Regions from separate parts of the Homo sapiens genome. Here regions 1, 3 and 4 are each reported to be linked to region 2. The links are microRNA targets in miRTarBase. Many come from high-throughput screens and were not tested one by one. Region 2 holds a microRNA gene; each other region holds the end of a gene's coding sequence.

The links. The annotated mature microRNA hsa-miR-4324 reads CCCUGAGACCCUAACCUUAA and lies in region 2 at 824-843, shown strand. An mRNA with a match to its seed (bases 2 to 7 or 8) in the 3' UTR can be bound and repressed. Matches are read on the target gene's strand: a 7mer-m8 pairs with bases 2 to 8, a 7mer-A1 pairs with bases 2 to 7 and ends in A, and an 8mer does both.
Region 1: the mRNA of IMP4 is a reported target of hsa-miR-4324. Seed matches in the 3' UTR shown: 7mer-A1 at 599-605.
Region 3: miRTarBase lists METTL21A as a target of hsa-miR-4324. Seed matches in the 3' UTR shown: 7mer-m8 at 480-486.
Region 4: the mRNA of SLC67A2 is a reported target of hsa-miR-4324. Seed matches in the 3' UTR shown: 7mer-m8 at 92-98.

What each region holds. Positions count from the first base shown.
Region 1 is chr2:130,345,907-130,349,053 of GRCh38, forward strand. IMP4 (IMP U3 small nucleolar ribonucleoprotein 4) reads left to right here. Exons shown (of 9, transcript NM_033416.3): 6 at 1-27; 7 at 112-206; 8 at 295-368; 9 at 450-2,061. The coding sequence ends at 562. Among named protein-coding and RNA genes, the nearest start is that of IMP4, 4.6 kb to the left of the region's middle.
Region 2 is chr19:49,306,489-49,309,649 of GRCh38, reverse strand. It overlaps MIR4324 (microRNA 4324), which reads left to right and starts at 782; the gene lies at 782-853. SLC6A16 (solute carrier family 6 member 16) reads left to right here. Exons shown (of 12, transcript NM_014037.3): 6 at 239-349; 7 at 533-774.
Region 3 is chr2:207,610,241-207,613,410 of GRCh38, reverse strand. It overlaps METTL21A (methyltransferase 21A, HSPA lysine), which reads left to right. Exons shown (of 4, transcript NM_001127395.5): 4 at 1-672. The coding sequence ends at 365. Among named protein-coding and RNA genes, the nearest start is that of METTL21A, 14 kb to the left of the region's middle.
Region 4 is chr2:102,715,773-102,718,772 of GRCh38, forward strand. SLC67A2 (solute carrier family 67 member 2) reads right to left here. Exons shown (of 6, transcript NM_032718.5): 6 at 1-3,000. The coding sequence ends at 2,648. Among named protein-coding and RNA genes, the nearest start is that of SLC67A2, 20 kb to the right of the region's middle.

The sequences.
Region 1 (3,147 bases), not on the chromosome of region 2:
GGCTTCTCCTCCCGCCTGGGCAAGCGGGTGAGTCTGGGGGCCTTCAGGCTGGGGCTGCGGGCCAGGCCAGGCATTTGCCACTCTGTTTCCCTCTCTTTCCTTGTGCCCCAGGTCTCTGACATCCTCCGATACCTATTTCCCGTGCCCAAAGATGACAGCCACCGGGTCATCACCTTCGCAAACCAGGACGACTACATATCATTCCGGTGGGTCCACGGGCCATGCCCCAGGAAAGCATCCCCACCCTGTGTACCTCGTGCTGCTTGCCGTTGACCCACAGCTGTTCCCTCCCAGGCACCATGTGTATAAGAAGACAGACCACCGCAACGTGGAGCTCACTGAGGTCGGGCCCCGCTTTGAGCTGAAGCGTGAGTTTGAGGCTGAATCCCGTGTCTGGGGTGGGGAGGGGAGGCTGGCTGTGCCGGGGCTGATGCCATCCCTGCCTGCAGTGTACATGATCCGTCTGGGCACGCTGGAGCAGGAGGCCACAGCAGACGTGGAGTGGCGCTGGCACCCTTACACCAATACCGCACGCAAGAGAGTCTTCCTGAGCACCGAGTGAGCACACTCACCACTCAGTCAGGACATGGACTTGGAACTCAGGATGGGGCTGTCATAGACAGACCCACCAGTAGGAACTGTCACAGAATGGCCTGCTGAACTGGGATGTGGAACTGTGGCGGGTGGAGAGGTCTGAATAAACCGTCTGTGTCATGGCCCCGCCTGCCTCTGAGTGGTCAGGCCAAGTCTGCAGGGCAAAGCCCATGGGATCCCTTTGGGTGGGGACCTGATGGCTGTGGGACGTGCTTGGGCCTGGAGTCAGTGTGGGGGTTAACAGAGAGAGAGATTTGATGCTAACGTCCCCTCAAGAGTGAGGGTCATATGAGCTCTTCAGCAGGCAGATGTGGGTAGCAGGGCCAGCCTGTGTCAGGGGCAGCCCACCAAGTTAACTCACTGAGTGGAAGCCGCCAGTGTGCCAACGCGGAGGGGACAGGCCACACCCAGTGCTCAGCAGCTGATTCCTCATGTAAGTGGCATCATGTGGTATTTGTTTTGTGTCTGGCTTATTTCTATTAACATAATGTTCTCCAGGTTCCTCCATGTTATTGCAAATGATAGGATTTCTTTCCTTGTAAAAAATAACATGCCACATTTTCTTACCAATCCGTCCACCAATAGACACTTAGGTCGTTTTCATAGTTTGGCAGTTGTGGAAATGCTGCAGTAAACATGGGAGTATAGCTATCTTTTGAAGATAATGATTTCATCTCTTTTTTATATGTATACCCAGAAGTGGGATTGCTGCATCAAATGGTGGTTCTATTTTTAATTTTTTGAGGAACCGCCATACTGTTTTCCATAAAGGCTGTACTAATTTCCATTCTCACCAACAGTTCACTAGGGTTCCCTTTTCTCCACATTGTTGCCAACATTCTTTATCTTGTGTTTTTTAATAACAGCTATCCTAACAGGTATGAGGTGATCTCTCTCATTGCGGTTTTGATTTGCATTTCCCTAACGGTTGGTGATACTGAGCATTTTTGCATACACCGGGTCATTTGTTCTTTGTTGTTGACTTGAGTCCCTTATATAGTTTGGATACTGCTGTGGCCTGAATGTTTGTGTCCCCCAAAAATTCGTATATTGAACTCTCATCCCTAAGGTCAACAGTTTAGGGAAGCGATTAGGTCCTGAGGACTCTGCCCTCTTGCATAGAATTAGTGCTCTTATAAAAGATGCCCGAGGGAGCTCTTTTGCCCCTCCTGCCATGTGAGGACACAGCTAGAAGCTACCATCTGTGAACCAGGAAGCCCCCCTCACCAGACACTGAATCTGCTGGAGCCACCATCTTGGACTTCCCAGCCTCCAGAGCTGTGAGAAATAAATGCCTGTTGTTTAAGCTACCCAGTCTGTGGTATTTTGTTAGAACAGCCCAAGTTGAGACAGATAGTAACCCTTTACCAGATACATGGTTTGCAAATAGTTTTTCCCACTCTGTAGATATAGCCATTGAGAAGCTCCTCAAGATAGACATTAAATACAAAGAAGCATGGTGTGAAACGCCATGTGTGATATGCTGTCAGTGTGCAAAAGAGGCAGGGAGGGCCCTGCACTTGCATGTATGTGCTGCATCATCCCCAGAAGGCTGAACTCCTTGCTGGTGCACTGGGTACCCAGGGAGGAGGGAGGTTCTTTACTGTAATGTTAGCAGGTGAACATTGTATCCACTTGACCACGAAGAACTGCCCTCTTGAGTTCTCTGCCCATTTTTTGGGGGGGTACAGGCGGACACTTGGAAGACATCCTTATGATAAAAAAGCATACAGAAGGCCTGGTGCAGTCACTCACACCTGTAATAATCCCAGCGCTTTGGGAGGTCAAGGCAAGGAGGTTCACTTGAAGTCAGGAGTTTGAGACCAGCCTGGGCAATACAGGGAGAGCTCATCTCTACAAAACATTTTTAAAAACACACACAAGTGCACATGGTGAAAAGTAAACCATCATCCTCCTTCCACCCCAAAGAACCCATCCCTAGTCTCCAGAGGTCATCAGTATTGACTTTTTAAAGAAGCTGGACTGATATCTTTTATTCATGGTATCCATAAGTTTGTTGACTGTTAATTATATTTTAACCTGAAAGGGATCATGTTGTGCACACTACTCTGAACCTTGCATCTTACCCTTTAATGACAAATGGATGCCACAGGGCTCCAAGGCTGTCTAGTACACATGGATCTGCCTCCTTCCTTGTGGCTACATTGTTGGGTGGCTTCCTGTTTTTACCCCCACAAATACTGCTTCGAGAGCATCATTGAACATACTTCTGTGCATATTTATGCAAGTGTATCTGATGCATACATCCCTACAAGAGGAATTCGGGCGTGGTGGCTCACACCTGTAATCCCAGCACTTCGGGAGGCTGAGGCGGGCGGATCACCTGAGGTCCGGAATTCAAGACCAGCCTGGCCAACATAGTGAAACCCCATCTCTACTAAAAATACAAAAAATTGACCTGGCATGGTGGCGGGTGCCTGTAATCCCAGCAGCTCAGGAGGCTGAGGCAGGAGAATCGCTTGAACCCGGGAAGTAGAGGTTGCAGTGAGCCAAGATCACGCCATTGCACTCCAGCCTGGGCAACAAGAGCAA
Region 2 (3,161 bases):
TGAGCCACCAGTATTGGATTCCTTGAAATTCTCAGATGCTTTAGCCCTTACCTCAATTTGTTACTTGTTGATCTCCTAATCTCTTACTCCTTTGGCTTTTACTCCCCTAGCCCCTGACTCTTGCTGAAGGCTTTCTTCTAACTCCTACTCATTTCTGACTCAGAACTTTTGATCCCTCCTAACTGTTGGTTGACCCCTACTGGTACACGGTTGCTGATATGTCCCACTCTCGATTCAGGTAATCTATGTCTTGGTACTGCTCCCCTGTTTCATCATTGTCGGTTTCTTCATCCGGACTCTACTCCTGGAAGGGGCAAAATTTGGCCTTCAACAGTTGGTGGTTGCCAAGGTGAAATCTATCTCCTCACTCCCCCGTCAGGCCTTGTAGGGCACCACAGCTGCCTATTCTTAGAGCTTCCTTTCCCCATTCTTTACTTTTGTATCTCCCTCTCTCCTCCCTGCAACATTTCTATTATAGTTGTCCTCTGCTTCTTCTTTTACAACCCCCTTATGCTTGTCTTCTCTCTTTTAGATATCGGATGTGTACAATATGAGTGTGTGGTCTCTAGCAGGGGGTCAAGTTTTGTCTAACACAGGCATAGGCCTTGGCTCCGTTGCCTCCTTAGCCTCCTACATGCCCCAGTCCAACAACTGTCTCAGTGATGCCTTTCTCGTGTCTGTGATAAACCTGCTCACTTTGTTGGTTTTCACATCTTTCAACTTCTGTGTCCTGGGCTTCTGGGCGACAGTCATCACACATCGCTGCTGTGAGAGGTAAGGCCGGCCCCTTTGTTAAGGGTCTCAGCTCCAGGGAACTTTAAAACCCTGAGACCCTAACCTTAAAGGTGCTGCAAAGACCCATGTTCACACATTTCAACCTTGGGTGCACTTGCAAGCCCTCTACCTTCCCCATAGCTAAAAATGGAGACAATAGAATCTCCTATCATATATTATCCTTCTCAGAGCCTTTTGTCACCCTAGAAATAAATCTTCAAACTCAGAGATTGCCAGCTATCCACCTCAGAGTGGATATGCTAACAGGGATGTACTAAAAATTGCAAACATTGAAGGCTTCTCTAATCCCAGATACACAACAAAATACCATCCAAGACCATACCACACAGAGACTTCCAAGGCCATCCTTGGAAAAATGGAGAAGTAGAAGGCCCCCATTATTTTATTTTATTTTTATTTTTTGAGATGGAGTCTCGCTCTTTCACCCAGGCTGGAGTGCAGTGGCGCGAACTTGGCTCACTGCAAGCTCTGCCTCCTGGGTTCAAGCCATTCTCCTGCCTCAGCCTCCTGAGTAGCTGGGACTACAGGTGCCCATCACCAGGCCCGGCTAATTTTTTTGTATTTTTAGTAAAGACAGGGTTTCACCATGTTAGCCAGGATGGTCTCGATCTCCCGACCTCATAATCCGCCCGCCTCAGCCTCCCAAAGTGCTGCGATTACAGGCGTGAGCCACCGCGCCCTAAGGCCCCCATTCTTAACTGTTAACTCCTGAATTGGGGATTTCTGTCAATCTAGCAGAAACTCCAAAAGGATTCTCTGTACTAGAACCTTGATTGTCTGATCACCCCTGTTTCTTATTTTTCTTATTTTTAGGCATTAATTCCAAAAACATCCATCAGACAGACATTTAGGAAGTGTTCTTTCTATACAACAGAGACTTGGACAGGTGAATCAGACCACAGTCCTTGTTTCATTAAGTTTTCAATTTTGGAGGGGGAAGGAAAGGAGAATGAGACAGCCAAAAACTTGTGCTAACTGGTAACTGAAGTGATGGGTGAGGACAGGAGACAGAGCCATTAATTCTGTCTGGACTAGTCAGATGGGGCCTTCCAGAGGAGGCAACCCTGAGTTGAATTTCTCCCAGTAATCTTTTTTTTTTCTTTTTCTTTTTTTTCTTTTTCTTTTTTTTTGCTTCCTCCTCCTCTTCCTCTCTCTCCCAGCAGATTTTTTTTTTTTAATTTAAATTTTTGAGAACAGGGTCCCACTATATTGCTCAGGCAGGTCTTGAACTCCTGGGCTCAAGCCATCCTCCTGCCTCTGCCTCCCAAAGAGCTGGGATTACAGGCGTGAGCCACCGCGCCCGACCTCTCCTAGTAACCCTAACCCTCACAAATAACCACCATTTTCTTCTAGAAGATGCCTGGGAATATACATGTGTGCGTGTGCAAGAGTTCTTGACAGCATATAGTTAGGAAAGGAATTGCTGAGTAGGGTGTGCTCCCCTTCAATTTTATCATATATTGTCTGGTTTTCAAAGTGGCGTAATGCATTGCCCTCCCATCAGGGATGTGTGAGACTTCCATTTGTTCTACTTTTTGCACAACACTTGATTAAACTTGGTTGGACTTTTAAATTGTTTCCAGTCTGGTGGGAGTGTAATGGTAGTTTTTTTGTGTATTTTCAAAAAAACCTTTTATTATGAGCTATTACCTACATATGGAAAAATGCATAAAACAAGGCCGGGAGCAGTGGCTCACGCCTGTAATGCCAGCTCTTAGGGAGGCTGAGGTGGGAGGATTGCTTGAACCCAGGAGTTTGAAATCAGCTGGGCGAGACCCTTCCTCTAACAAAAAAAAAAAAAAAGTGTATAAAACAATGCACTGTGTAACGAACCGTGAAGTAAACATCACCTGTATTAAGAACTAGAATAACCCTAGATGCTCTCTGTGTATCTTTTTCTAATCATAATCTCTTTACTGCCTCCCAGAGGTAACCATCATAAAAGTCAGGATAGTGGTTACTATATTGCTTAGTAGATACGCATACATAGATGATCAAATGTAAAGAAAAACAAGCCGGGTGCGGTGGCTCATGCCTATAATCCCAGCACTTTGGGAGGCTGAGGCAGATGGATCACGAGGTCAGGAGTTTGAGACCAGCCTGGCCAATATGGTGAAACCCCATCTCTACTAACAAATACAAAAATTAGCCGGGCGTGGTGGCACACACCTGTAGTCCCAGCTACTCAGGAGGCCAAAGCAGGAGAATTGCTTGAACCTGGGAGGTGGAGGCTGCAGTGAGCTGAGATTGTGCCACTGCATTCCACCTGGGCAACAGAGTGAGACTCTCTCTCAAAAAAAAAAAAAAGAAAAAAAAAAAACAAAGAACTAAGGATAGTGATTAATGTTTTTCTTTATATTCTATCA
Region 3 (3,170 bases), not on the chromosome of region 2:
CATTAGAATTTCTTAAATCAAACGTTCAAGCCAACTTACCTCCTCATATCCAAACTAAAACTGTTGTTAAGGAGCTGACTTGGGGACAAAATTTGGGGAGTTTTTCTCCTGGAGAATTTGACCTGATACTTGGTGCTGATATCATATATTTAGAAGAAACATTCACAGATCTTCTTCAGACACTGGAACATCTCTGTAGCAATCACTCTGTGATTCTTTTAGCATGCCGAATTCGCTATGAACGGGATAACAACTTCTTAGCAATGCTGGAGAGGCAATTTACTGTGAGAAAGGTTCACTACGATCCTGAAAAAGATGTACATATTTACGAAGCACAGAAGAGAAACCAGAAGGAGGACTTATAATTGGCTATAATTTATAAGAATGTTGTCATTGAGTGTGTCACTTAAGGTCTTAGACTGCAAATCTAACCATATTTAATGAAATGTCTTACTGTACAAAAAGTCTAAGCCAAAGGTTCTCAGGGGAGAAAGCACATGTGCAGTTTTAAAACAAAGCAGTGCTTTGTCCCATTGCTGTGATTTTTAGTCAGACTTTACTCAGTCTGAAATGCAATTAACATTAAAGGATTAAGTGTGAGATTTCGATTTATGCTATTTGTGTATCCCATACTCCTCCCTTTTAATAAACAGTTTCCACTGATGATATGAAGGGCCGGTATAAAGAAGTCTTTAAATGAGTAAGCTTTCTTGGTAAGATTAAATCTTACAAATTATTTTTAAAACCTTGTGATATATACAATGTTTAGCTGAGTTTTCTAATTTTCTGGATGTAAAACAAAAGGTTTAACCTATACATTCCTTGAGCTGTTAGTGCTATTTAAATCTTTTGCCCTGTTTAGGTCCTAAACACTTTTAGTTGAGTAGGATATGAGCTTTTTTGGGTCTCATATCATGCTTTTTGCCTTAATTTCAGGTATATATATATATATAAATAAAGGAATTAAGTAAAAATAAAATTTCAGTTACTTTTTAAAAGCACCTGAAATCTGGCCGGATGCGGTGGCTCATGCCTGTAATCCCACCACTTTGGGAGGCCGAGGCGGGCAGATCACCTGAGGTCAGGAGTTCAAGACCAGCCTGGCCAACATGGTGAAACCCCATCTCTACTAAAAATACAAAAATTAGCCGGGCGTGGTGTCAGGCGCCTGTAATCCCAGCTACTCAGGAGGCTGAGGCAGGAGAATCGCTTGAACCTGGGAGGCAGAGGTTGCAGTGAGCTGAGATTGCACCATTGTACTCCAGCCTGGGGGACAAGAGCGAGACTCCATCTCAAAAAAAAAAAAAAAAAAAAAAAAAAAAAGCACCTGAAATCTTGAATAGGTTTTCTTTTTTTTTTTTTTTTTTTAATTAATTTATTTTTTTTTTATTGATCATTCTTGGGTGTTTCTCGCAGAGGGGGATTTGGCAGGGTCATAGGACAATAGTGGAGGGAAGGTCAGCAGATAAACAAGTGAACAAAGGTCTCTGGTTTTCCTAGGCAGAGGACCCTGCGGCCTTGGCCTTCCGCAGTGTTTGTGTCCCTGGGTACTTAAGATTAGGGAGTGGTGATGACTCTTAACGAGCATGCTGCCTTCAAGCATCTGTTTAACAAAGCACATCTTGCACCGCCCTTAATCCATTTAACCCTGAGTGGACACAGCACATGTTTCAGAGAGCACAGGGTTGGGGATAAGGTCACAGATCAACAGGATCCCAAGGCAGAAGAATTTTTCTTAGTACAGAACAAAATGAAAAGTCTCCCATGTCTACTTCTATCCACACAGACCCGGCAACCATCCGATTTCTCAATTTTTTCCCCACCCTTCCCGCCTTTCTATTCCACAAAACCGCCATTGTCATCGTGGCCCATCCCCAATGAGCCGCTGGGCACACCTCCCAGACGGGGTCGTGGCCGGGCAGAGGGGCTCCTCACTTCCCAGTAGGGGCGGCCGGGCAGAAGCGCCCCTCACCTCCCGGATGGGGCGGCTGGCCGGGCGGGGGGCTGACCCCCCCACCACCCTCCCGGACGGGGCGGCTGGCCAGGCAGAGGGGCTCCTCACTTCCCAGTAGGGACGGCCGGGCAGACGCGCCCCTCACCTCCTGGATAGGGCGGCTGGCTGGGCGGGGGGCTGTCCCCCCCACCTCCCTCCCGGACGGGGCGGCTGGCCGGGCAGAGGGGTCCTCACTTCCCAGTAGGGGCGGCCGGGCAGAGGCGCCCCTCACCTCCCGGACGGGGCGGCCGGCCGGAAGGGGGGCTGACCCCCCCCACCTCCCTCCCGGACCGGGCGGCTGGCCGACCCCCCCCCCCCCCCCCGCCTCCCTCCCGGACGGGGCGGCTGGCCGGGCAGAGGGGCTCCTCACTTTCCAGTAGGGGCGGCCGGGCAGAGGCGCCCCTCACCTCCCGGACGGGGCGACTGGCCAGGCGGGGGGCTGACCCCCCCACCTCCCTCCCGGATGGGGCAGCTGGCCAGGTGGGAGGATGACCCCCCCACCTCCCTCCCGGGCGGGGCGGCTGGCCGGGCAGAGGGGCTCCTCACTTCCCAGTAGGGGCGGCCGGGCAGAGGCGCCCCTCACCTCCCGGATGGGGCGGCTGGCCAGGCGGGGGGCTGATCCCCCCACCTCCCTCCCGGACGGGGCGGCTGGCCAGGCAGAGGGGCTCCTCACTTCCCAGTAGGGGCGGCCGGGCAGAGGAGCCCCTCACCTCCCGGACGGGGCGGCTGGCCGGGCGGGGGGCTGACCCCCCCCACCTCCCTCCCGGACGGGGTGGCTGCTGGGCGGAGACGCTCCTCACTTCCCAGACGGGGTGGTTGCCGGACGGAGGGGCTCCTCACTTCTCAGACGGGGCGGTTGCCAGGCAGAGGGTTTCCTCACTTCTCAGACGGAGCGGCCGGGCAGAGACGCTCCCCACCTCCCAGACAGGGCTGCGGCCCAGCAGAGGCGCTCCTCACATCCCAGACAGGGCGGCGGGGCAGAGGTGCTCCCCACATCTCAGACGATGGGCGGCCGGGCAGAGACGCTCCTCACTTCCTAGATGGGATGGCGGCGGGGAAGAGGCGCTCCTCGCTTCCCAGATGGGATGGCGGCCGGGCAGAGACGCTCCTCACTTTCCAGACTGGGCAGCCAGGCAGAGGGGCTCCTCACATCCCAGACGATGGGTGGCCAAGCAGA
Region 4 (3,000 bases), not on the chromosome of region 2:
CAACCTGACACACTGGAAAGGGCTACAGAAGTTACTCAAGAGAATTTAAAAAATGAAACACCACAAATGTCAATTGAGCAGATTTAATTTCCCTGAGATTATATTCCATAAGTGATACAAATACTACCCCTTAGACCAGGGGTTTTCAAAGTTTGCTGTGCAAAAAATCAGCTAGGTATCTTATTAAAATGGTCCCCAACATGTCTGAGCTGGAGCTTCAGTGTTCACAGGTCTCAGGTGATGCTGATGCTACTGGTCTCTGGGTCACACTTTAAAGAGGAAGACATTAGATAAAGTAAAAGGAGTCATGAGAAAAGGTGCACCTAAAAAACATCACATAACAAAATACTAAAGTCACTAGTGGAGAATAACAAACATGTCTCTCTACTCTATATTCTAAGATCAGTCTTTGGTTTTCTATATTTCCATGTGTCTGATTATAAAGACTCATTAAGTTTATGGGCTTTTTAAACTTCAAAAATAAAGTGCTACGATTTTTAAAATAAAAACACGACTATAAGGGCTTTTAAGAAACTTGCCTGTTTCTGAGAGTGAAGGACAATCTTTGAGATCCAAACTCTTCTGAAATTCTATTTCATTGCATAAACCCTCGATTATTTATTGCCTTTTGAGTCTAATCTCCATGAGATTTAATTTGCTCCTTAAGGGCAAGGCCATTTTATATATTAATAATAGTTTGGTCTCCTCGAAAGCACTTAACATTTACATAAAAGTTCACAATTGTAAAACCTAATCAGAAGTCCATTTTTCCTTGCAGCAAGATAGGAAAAAGGACAATCTTCAAACTAAAACATACTTCCAATTATTTATCATAAATATTTGATTTTACTCCATGACTTCTAAAATACAGAAATGTTTACTGCTTTACAAACAATAAATATTAAAGATATGACAAATTACTGTAGCATACTAAAATATTTACAAGTATGCATGTGTTAAGTTGAAAACAGGCATACCATCCTAGTGGACTAATTAAGAAAAGTAAAAGGAATGTGAACTTCAACTGTCTGACAGGAAGCCCTTAAGTAACTGATTAATACTTGATGCAATCCCAATGGTCATCCTGCCTGGCATATGTCTCCCTGCAAGGCTATGTTCACCTTCTGTCTGGGCCTCTGCCTCTCGTGGCCCCCTCGGTGCTGTATATGAAACTTGTTTAGACAAGAAATGGCACATCAAAATATTTCCGTTGATCAACAGAATGCTTGTGTTTGCAGGCGTGAAACTAAAAATAAAGGAAATGATTCTTTTTTTTTTGAGACGGAGTCTCACTCTGTCGCCCAGGCTGGAGAGCAGTGGCACAATCTTGGCTCACCGCAAGCTCCGCCTCCCAGGTTCACGCCATTCTACCTCAGCCTCCCGAATAGCTGGGACTGCAGGCGCCCGCCATCACGCCCGGCTAATTTTTTTTTTGTATTTTTAGTAGAGACGGGGTTTCACCATGTTAGCCAGAATGGTCTCCATCTCCTGACCAAGTGATTCACCTGCCTCAGCCTCCCAAAGTGCTGGGATTACAGGCCTGAGCCACCGAGCCTGGCCAGGAAATGATTCTTAACACAAGACACAGTAGCATCAAGTTCTGGTCTGGCATGACTCCTGACCCTTATTCTGCATAAACTGTTCATTTTTAAAGCATTCCTGTGCTTTGGCTTCACCACTGGGTTCTGTCAGCACCAGAAGGATGCAACCTGACTGGAATGCAGGCTTCCAGGAGCAGGCTGTGGCAACCCCAGCATCTAAGTGGTTTAGTCCAACTTCAGAGCAAGCTGGGCTCTCAGAGGCAGGGAGCACAGGGAACAGGTCCCAGGGGCCCGCTGCTCCATCATGCAGTACAACTGCTGAGAGCTGGGAAAGGTGTAACACACTGTGATTACAAACACAATTTTAAGAGTCCAAATTTAGTTAGCTGTGTAAAAACAGCCAAGCCTATGTACTTTAATCAAAATCAGTGCAGTCTCAGTGTGGTCTTTACTGCCATGAGAAATCGCCAGCAGTGCTTACAAAACACCACGGATTTCTTGGCCCCACCCAGGCCCACTGAATCATCTCTAGGGGTGAGGTCAGTATCTTATTTTTAAGCAGCTTTGAAAAGCGACAGGCTGGTTCTAATAAACCAGCTTCTTCAATCTGCAGGATTTTGATAGAAAACTCCCTCCTAGTGTATGGAATTTAACTGGAAACTCAAGTTCCAGTTGATCAGAATTTGACTGACATGTCACCCTATTTTTCAGTAGGAAAATGCTTGTGGTTTCTTCCCTTCCTCCAGGTATCATGTTCTCTTATTCCACCACCACTTCCCTATCCTGTAGCTGGTAGTTTGTTTACCCTTGAAAATTGTAACCTGATTAGCCCAGGTGGGAAGAAGAGACTTCCAGGTAAACGCTGAATATGCTCACCTTGGAAAAGCTTTGCTCCAGTCTTAACCTTCCCATGAGGTGCCGTGACTTCTGATCATCCTGCAGGCATGGCTGCATGGCCAAGAGCTGACCTGGAAGCCCAACAGCTCACACCCACCCGGAAATATTTCCCTTCCACCCCAACCCTTTCCAAAGTGCCCTTTTCATCATGGCCTCCGGCCCTCATTCAACCATCTCAAATTTTGTTGCTTTATGTTGTCCAAATCCATCTACTCACTTTTTAATTTACTATTCCCATCACCACTAGAGTGTCGCTTGTTTAGAGACATTATGAAAATGGCCACTAAGGCTAACACAGCGCCCAGGCTGGGGGGGCCGCAAGGGCTGACCTCCTGGGCAACCCCCGAGAGGAGAGGGGCGATGATGCGGCCCACTGCAGTCACAGACTGCCCCACGCCAATAAGGGTGCCGCTGGCCTGGGCCCCGCCCACAGTCAGCTGGAGGTCCGTGATGCACGTCCTGCCAATGGCAGTGGAGAAGGACAGGAGAGTGGAGGAGAGGACAACTGCACCCATGGTGGGGGCCAAGGAGTAGAGCAGCAGCAGTGTGCAGGTGAGTATGC